Homo sapiens: one gene and its partner. The protein of the gene in region 1 purifies or fractionates together with the protein of each later gene. This does not show direct contact. Each region holds a gene or a part of one and is shown on either strand. Other genes may lie near its edges.

Region 1 (3,500 bases):
AGTGCAGTGGTGCAATCTTGGCTCACTGCAACCTCTACCTCCTGGGTTCAAGCGATTCTCTTGCCTCAGCCTCCCGAGTAGCTGGGATTACAGGCATGTGCCACCACAACTGGCTAATTTTATATTTTTAGTAGAGATGGGGTTTCTCTGTGTTGGTCAGGCTGGTCTTGAACTCCTGACCTCAGGTGATCTGCCCACCTGGGCCTCCTAAAGTGCTGGGATTACAGGCATGAGCCACCGTTCCTGGCCCAGTGGTAGTTTCTTAAAGGCTGGTTGCATTGTGGAATGTGAAACCATATCATTGAGTCTTTCTTCCTTTGTTAAATTAAAATCCATTTGTCTGTCTTGCCTTTTTAATGGATCTTTTACCCATGCATGCTTTTGTAATATCATGCTTTAGTCATTTGGAAAATATTAGTTTGCTGAGTTAAGCAGATCTTAAAAATATTGATATATTTCTTGTACAGCATCAAAAATTACATTCTATCTCATAAAAGTTTTGTGAGTTTTGGGAAGCTGCTAAGCTCACAGTGGTGGATACAAGTTTAACAGAATTGTAATTTTTGCATAAAATTTTGAATTTTATCATTAACACAATTATTTCTGTTTTCCTTGAAGTGACAAGATCACTTTGTTTATTTGTTAAAAGAAAATGTTTCCCATAGACCCAAAGTCTTAATAACCATAGTTTTTCTGTCAGTCTTTCTTTCAAGTAAAAATATCTAGTTTAGTTTGTATCACAAATAATTATGCAAGCATTTTTCTTAAGACAACCATAGTGTTTCGGTTTGTAGCAGAGGTGCTTTACGTATATTCTCATTTTGTCACACAGACCATAAAAAAAGGATGCGTTTAAGAGTTTGGCTTTAATGAAGTCAATACCTTTTTGCTGATTCATCAGAGACATTCTTAAGCAAGACTGCCTTTTTTTTTTTTAAAAAAAAAAAGCAACTGAGAATGTGTGGTTATCAAGAAAGTAATGACTGCTAGTACATTTTGGTTTTGCTGCTTTTCTTCTTGGTAAGGTGTCAGCAGTTTTATCCACCACTGCTTTCATGTTAACCTGGTGAGAAAGACAAACATCTTTATGTTAAAATAATAGCATTGACTTTGTGAACCTTCTGAATGTTCTTAGGGATCCCCAAAGATCTACACACCACCCTTTCCAAACTGCTGATCTAGGCCAGGATTTTTCTCATTTTTAATAACATAGACTAGTTTAACATTCAATTTTTAAAAAATAAATATCTTGAAAGTCAATTTTTTTGTAGGTTTATCCATGTCTTACAATTTTATTTTATTATATTTTTATGTAGGTTTTCCCAAGAACTACAGTTAAAAGTACAGAAAGATGCCAGAAATGTTTCTTTATCTAAAAAATCCCAAAACAGAAAGAAGGAAAAAGAAAAAGATGATTCCTTAGTTGAAGAAAGAAAAACACTTGTGGTACAGGTAAATGTTCATGTTTCACATTTTAGATTTAATATACTTATTTTTTTAAATTTTTTGAGAAAAAATATGATTTTGAAAAAAGTTTTCTGAGCAGTGAGCAAATTGTTAACTTTTAGTTTAGTTGTAAAAATGTATCTTCTCAGTAGATATTACCTGTTTAGAAAACTTAACATATCATGTTTTGAGTACCTGTTATGTGCCAGACTGTGCAACAGTGCTTAAATCACATTCATCCAAGAACATCTAGATATGTGTTTTCATGAACACATATACACACAGACACATGGAACAAACAACCCTCACCCCACTTATCTTTCTTAAAGGATATGAGTGAAAAATATTGTCTGTAGAAATTTATATGAAGTAAAAATTTGAAAAGTGAGATTTGGATACTTAACTTAGGTTTGCTTTTCCTGGTGAACTACCCAGGATCTGTTCTTGATAAGGTAATTCAAATCCACCACCAATCCACTTATATCAAGTACACCAAAAGAAGAAAGAGTTATCAGTTTTGTGTTCCATGACTCTGAATATGTAAGAACAAAAGTGGAATTCTTGATTCCTCTTCCATGAGTTTTTCCACTGATGTGTGTGTATGTGTGTGTGTGTGTGTCTGAGTGAGCTGTGTGAATTGCATTTCCATTCTTTTTGTATTTTCCCAATAACTATCTGAATAAGAATCTGGCTTTAATTTTAATCCCCTAGGAAGAATAAAGAAAACAGTTTCAAAAAGGTGATACTTATGATATTCTGCTCTAGTTGACAAGTACTTTATAAGAAGAGGTAAATTTTCATTCTCTTCAGATCATTAACCTTATTAATATTTTTGTTAATGATCAGGATACCAATGCTGATCCCAAAATTAAGGATTATAAACTATTTAAAATAAAAGGCTCAAAAATTGATGGAGAAAAAGCTGAAAAAGGCAATAGAGCTTCAAATGCCAGCTGTCTCCATGACAGTAGGACAAGCCACAACAAAATAGTGCCTTCAACAAGCCTCAAAGACTGCAGCAATGTCAGCGTGGACCACACAAGGAATCCAAGCGTGGCAATTCCCCCACTTACACACAATCTTTCTGCAGTTGCTCCCAGCATTAATTCTGGAATGGGGACTGAGACTATACCAATTCAGGGTTACAGGTATGAATTAGTAAAATAAGATCAAAAAAGTGTTTAAGGACATATTTGCAAATTGCAAGGGTTTGTCAATTCATCCACATTGTTTTTATTCTCAGAATTCTGGATGCTATTCATTCTTGTCAGGTAGCTGTTTCAAAAGACTTTTTGGCTGTGTGATGAAGATTATTAGCATTTGATCAAAACAATTCACCAAAGTCCTGAGAAAGTAGGGTTTTATTGCTTAAGGTGAAGAGAATCTACAGCTATATAGTCTAATAATGTGAAAGCAGGTTGTCATACTAAAAGAGATAATTTTTGAGTGGCTGCTGCTGCATGGTGTGACTGTGAGCCTATAGTAGTATAAGGAAGCTCCATTTGGGAATTTTGCTGAAAGGAGGGTAATGTATTTGGTAGGAGTTGGGGGCTGCTGGGAGGCATGAGGGTAGTGTTAAAGAATAGAATGTTTCACCAGATTTATGTGCATTGTATATTTGAGAATAGACATTACACTCTGGTTAAACTGCTTGTTAGTTGGTGCTGTGTCATTTAGTTTTGTGCTTGAAAAAATAATTATTGCTGGTTCTAACTTAAAAACATTTTTTTTTGTCGTTACAGAGTGGATGAGAAAACTAAGAAGTGTTCTATTCCATTTGTTAAACCGAACAGACATTCCCCATCAGGCATTTATAACATTAATGTGACCACATTAGTAAGTAAGCAGTTCTCAGTAGTAGAAGAGCAAACACCAGTCAGCTCTAGACTTTTATTAAAATTAAATATGATAGTGAAGTATTGAGAATTTTGTTTGGATACACATAAAGTGAAACCTTAATTGTGCATATATTATCCCAACCCATCATAGTCATAAACGTGAAATTCTGAAAGTTTAAGTTTTATGAGTCTAAAAACTCCTTCCTTCCTTTCTTC
Region 2 (3,500 bases), on another chromosome or scaffold:
GTGGGCACTTGGGGGTGGGGGCTGTGCAAGGGGCTACGGCTCTTCCTCGAGGCCCAGCTCTGAGGGAAAGGCCCAGGTGTTCACAGGGGCCCTGGAGTGGGCGGTGGAGGTGCATGGCCCTGATCCCAGGTGGCTCTGACCCGGGTCTCTCCGCAGCAAATGTACATCACGTATGTGAGGAACTGCAAGTTCACCTCGCCTGGTGCCCTCCCCTTCATCAGTTTCATGCAGTGGACCTTGACGGAGCTGCTGGCCCTGGAGCCGGGTGTGGCCTACCAGCACGCCTTCCTCTACATCCGCCAGCTCGCCATACACCTGCGCAACGCCATGACCACTCGCAAGAAGGTGTGTGGTGGGGCCCTTCCAGGCTCATGCTGGGCATGGGGTGGGGCAGCCCAGGTGCCCGACCCAAGGCAGGGCCTGGGGCCTCCCCGAAGCCCCTGTCTGGAGACAGCCCAGCACCCTGGTGCAGTCGGTCCTTGCAGGTGGGGGAAGGGTGGATGGGTTGAGACCCCGTGTGCAAGATGAGGAAATGATTCCTGTGCCGGCCCAGGAGGAACGTGCATCAGCCTGACTTGTCAGCCTGGCCAGTAGCTGACGTGGTTCTCTCTGACCAGGAAACATACCAGTCTGTGTACAACTGGCAGTATGTGCACTGCCTCTTCCTGTGGTGCCGGGTCCTGAGCACTGCGGGCCCCAGCGAAGCCCTCCAGCCCTTGGTCTACCCCCTTGCCCAAGTCATCATTGGCTGTATCAAGTGAGTTGTGGGGTGGGCAGGGTTGTGCGGGAGGGTCAGGAGAAGCAAATTTGCTGGGACTGTGTGGGCGGTGCCTCTGGCGTTCAGGGCCTTGGGGCCTGAGTCTGTGTCCTGGCCGTCCCTGAGGAAGGGCTGGGGTCCCTGTACCTGCTACGGGGAGATGCTCTGGATTCTGGAGAGCTAGGGCTGGTGGGCACCTGTGACATGAGCTCCTCCAACAGCGGTTTAGCCGCCTCGGGTGCCACCCAGCGTGTGTTCTGGGGGCTTGTGTGCAGTTTGCAGTGAGTTTGGTTCATTACGTGGGGTTCTTGGGTGGAGCACATCTGATGCAGTGAACTGCATTTTGGGTGTGAGCGCTTAGGAGGGTCCAGGCACGGTAGGGGCTGCAGCAGGAAAAGGTGGGAGCAGTACTGTGGCCTCTTTGGCCAGGAGGGGGCATCTGTCTGGCTGAGCCTTAGAAACTCAAGGCTGGGAAGGGAGGTGGGAAGTCCAAGGGAAGAAGTAGGAAAGGCGGGAACAGGGAGGAGAGCAGGCAGGAACAGATGACCCCTGCCACCGTGTTGAAATAAAGCTGAAAGCTGGGTAAGGTACCTGCAGCCCCATAGCTGGGCAAGGGGTGCAGGTCCCTGGGGTTCAGACGTGCCTTGTCCTGCTTTAGGGGTCTGATGTCGGTGAGTGGGGGAGGAGGTCCAAGACAGCAGGGGGAGGGGCAGGGGCTGCCAGAGCCGGGGCCTCTGCTCACTCGGCCTTCCCACCCCCAGGCTCATCCCCACTGCCCGCTTCTACCCGCTGCGAATGCACTGCATCCGTGCCCTGACGCTGCTCTCGGGGAGCTCGGGGGCCTTCATCCCGGTGCTGCCTTTCATCCTGGAGGTGAGTGAGGCTGTGGTGGGCGTGTGGCACCTCTGCCTGCTCCTGTAGGGAGCATCTGCTGCTCCGGGCGTCTGTGCTGAGTTGTCCGGCGACTTCCCGGAGCCCTGGCCGCCTCCTTGTCACGGGTGTCACGAGGACAGTGCTCCTCCGTGTGCTGGGGGCAGTGTTGGGGAACGTGGGACCACTGGGGATGAAGGCGGCTGCTGCTAGGGCTGTGCTTGAGGATGCCGGGACCTGACCCTGTAGGTGCTTGCCCAAGACTGGAGTAGGCAGGAGGCGAGATGGGCCAAAACCCAAGTCTGATTGCTGAACTGTACACTGAACAGTGCCCTGCCCTGACAGTTGTGTGCATGTGTATGCATTTGTATGGGGGATGTGTGTACATCTGGGTGGGTGCGTTTGTCTGTGCATGCATGCGTGTGTGTGCACCATCTGGGTGCATGGGTCTGTAAATCTGTGTGTGTGTGCATATCAGTTCATGTGTGCATCTGTATGTGTGTATGCACGTGTATCCATGAATGCCTGTGTGCCTGCAGGTGTGTGCATCTGTGCGTGTGTACACCTGTGTGTATGCATGTGTGTACCTTTGCGTGTACCTTTGCGTGTGTGCACCTGTGCATGTGTCTTTGTATACCAGTGTGTACCTGTGTGTACCTGTATGCATGCACATGCGTGTGTACCTGTGTGCACCTGTCTGCATGTGTGTACCTGTGCGTGTGTGCACCTGTGTGCATGCATTTGCGTCTGCATGTGTCTACCTGTGCATGCATGAACCTTTGCATGTGTGCATCTGTGTGCATGCATGTGTGTCTGCGTGCATCTATGTACCTGTGTGCACCTATGTGCATACACACGTGTCTGTGTGCACTTGTGTGCATGCATTTGCATCTGCATGTGTGTACTGTGCGTGTGTACCTGTGCGTGTACCTGTACACTTGGGTGCATGCATGCACGTCTGCTTGTGTGTGCCTGTGCGTGTGTGCACCTGTGTGCATGTACGTGCGTCTACGTGTGTGCCTGTGCATGTGTGCGCCTGTGTGTACCTGTGTGTATGCATCTTTGCACGTGCACATGCCACTCAGGTAGGGAAAGATTGGAGTCCGAAGTTTCAACTTTCAGTGGGTGGGTTAGGCCCCACCCCGCTGTAAATTTAGGAATTCACGATCTCCACCCTGTTTATCTAATGAGTTCTCAGCCTCATGAAGGCCCAGAGTCGTGTCACAGCTGTCCTTGGGGCTGGGTCCCCAGGTTGCTGGGTCCAGAAGGTATGGAAGCCCCAGGCACGTTCTGATTCCCCTTCCACTGAGGCAGGGATGCTGAACATCTTTAGGAAGCCATGTTCACTCCCATGGCAGCCAGCAGTGGTCTCTGATTGCCCAGCCCTTGGCCTGGCCCCTGTGTCTGTGGGCCTCCAGCTCTGCTGCCCAGCTCCAGGCATGCTTTGTGTCTGTTTCCCTTGTCCAATCTCCTTGGCTACGTGCTTTCTTACTCTCTTGCAGTGTCTGTTTCTTCACTTGTGCACTGCCCTGGTTCACTGCAGCCGCACCCTGTAGGCCCCTCTCACGCAGGGATGCAGGCCTCTCCTCTCCGGAAAAAGCAAACCCTAAAAGCTAAAACAAAGCCCTCAGCTGTAGGCCGTGCCTGCCCTTCCCCGGTGCCTGGACAGGAAGCCAGTCGCCTGCCCATACTTTTGGCCCAGGCTAGAGAAGGGCAGTGTCCTCCCAGAGGTTCATCAGTACCAGGGCGTTTTCCCATCTGGACCTGAGCTCAGCTGTCTGGCAGCCACCCCTGCTGAGTGGGGTGTCTTGCTGGGGCCTCCACCCTTGGGCCCCCCATAATCTGCTTCTGTCCTCTGGTGCCCCAGCATGTA

The links.
Region 2: the proteins of CDKL2 (region 1) and NOC2L purify together in Homo sapiens (affinity purification with mass spectrometry; one large-scale study listed by BioGRID and IntAct). This does not show direct contact.

Annotation. Positions count from the first base shown.
Region 1 is NC_000004.12:75,596,029-75,599,528, reverse strand, and holds part of CDKL2 (cyclin-dependent kinase-like 2), read left to right. Parts: intron 1-1,316; coding exon 1,317-1,452; intron 1,453-2,292; coding exon 2,293-2,594; intron 2,595-3,188; coding exon 3,189-3,282; coding exon of another isoform or gene 3,283-3,286; exon of another isoform or gene 3,287-3,362; intron 3,363-3,500.
Region 2 is NC_000001.11:949,257-952,756, reverse strand, and holds part of NOC2L (nucleolar complex protein 2 homolog), read left to right. Parts: intron 1-156; coding exon 157-345; intron 346-617; coding exon 618-757; intron 758-1,518; coding exon 1,519-1,630; intron 1,631-3,500.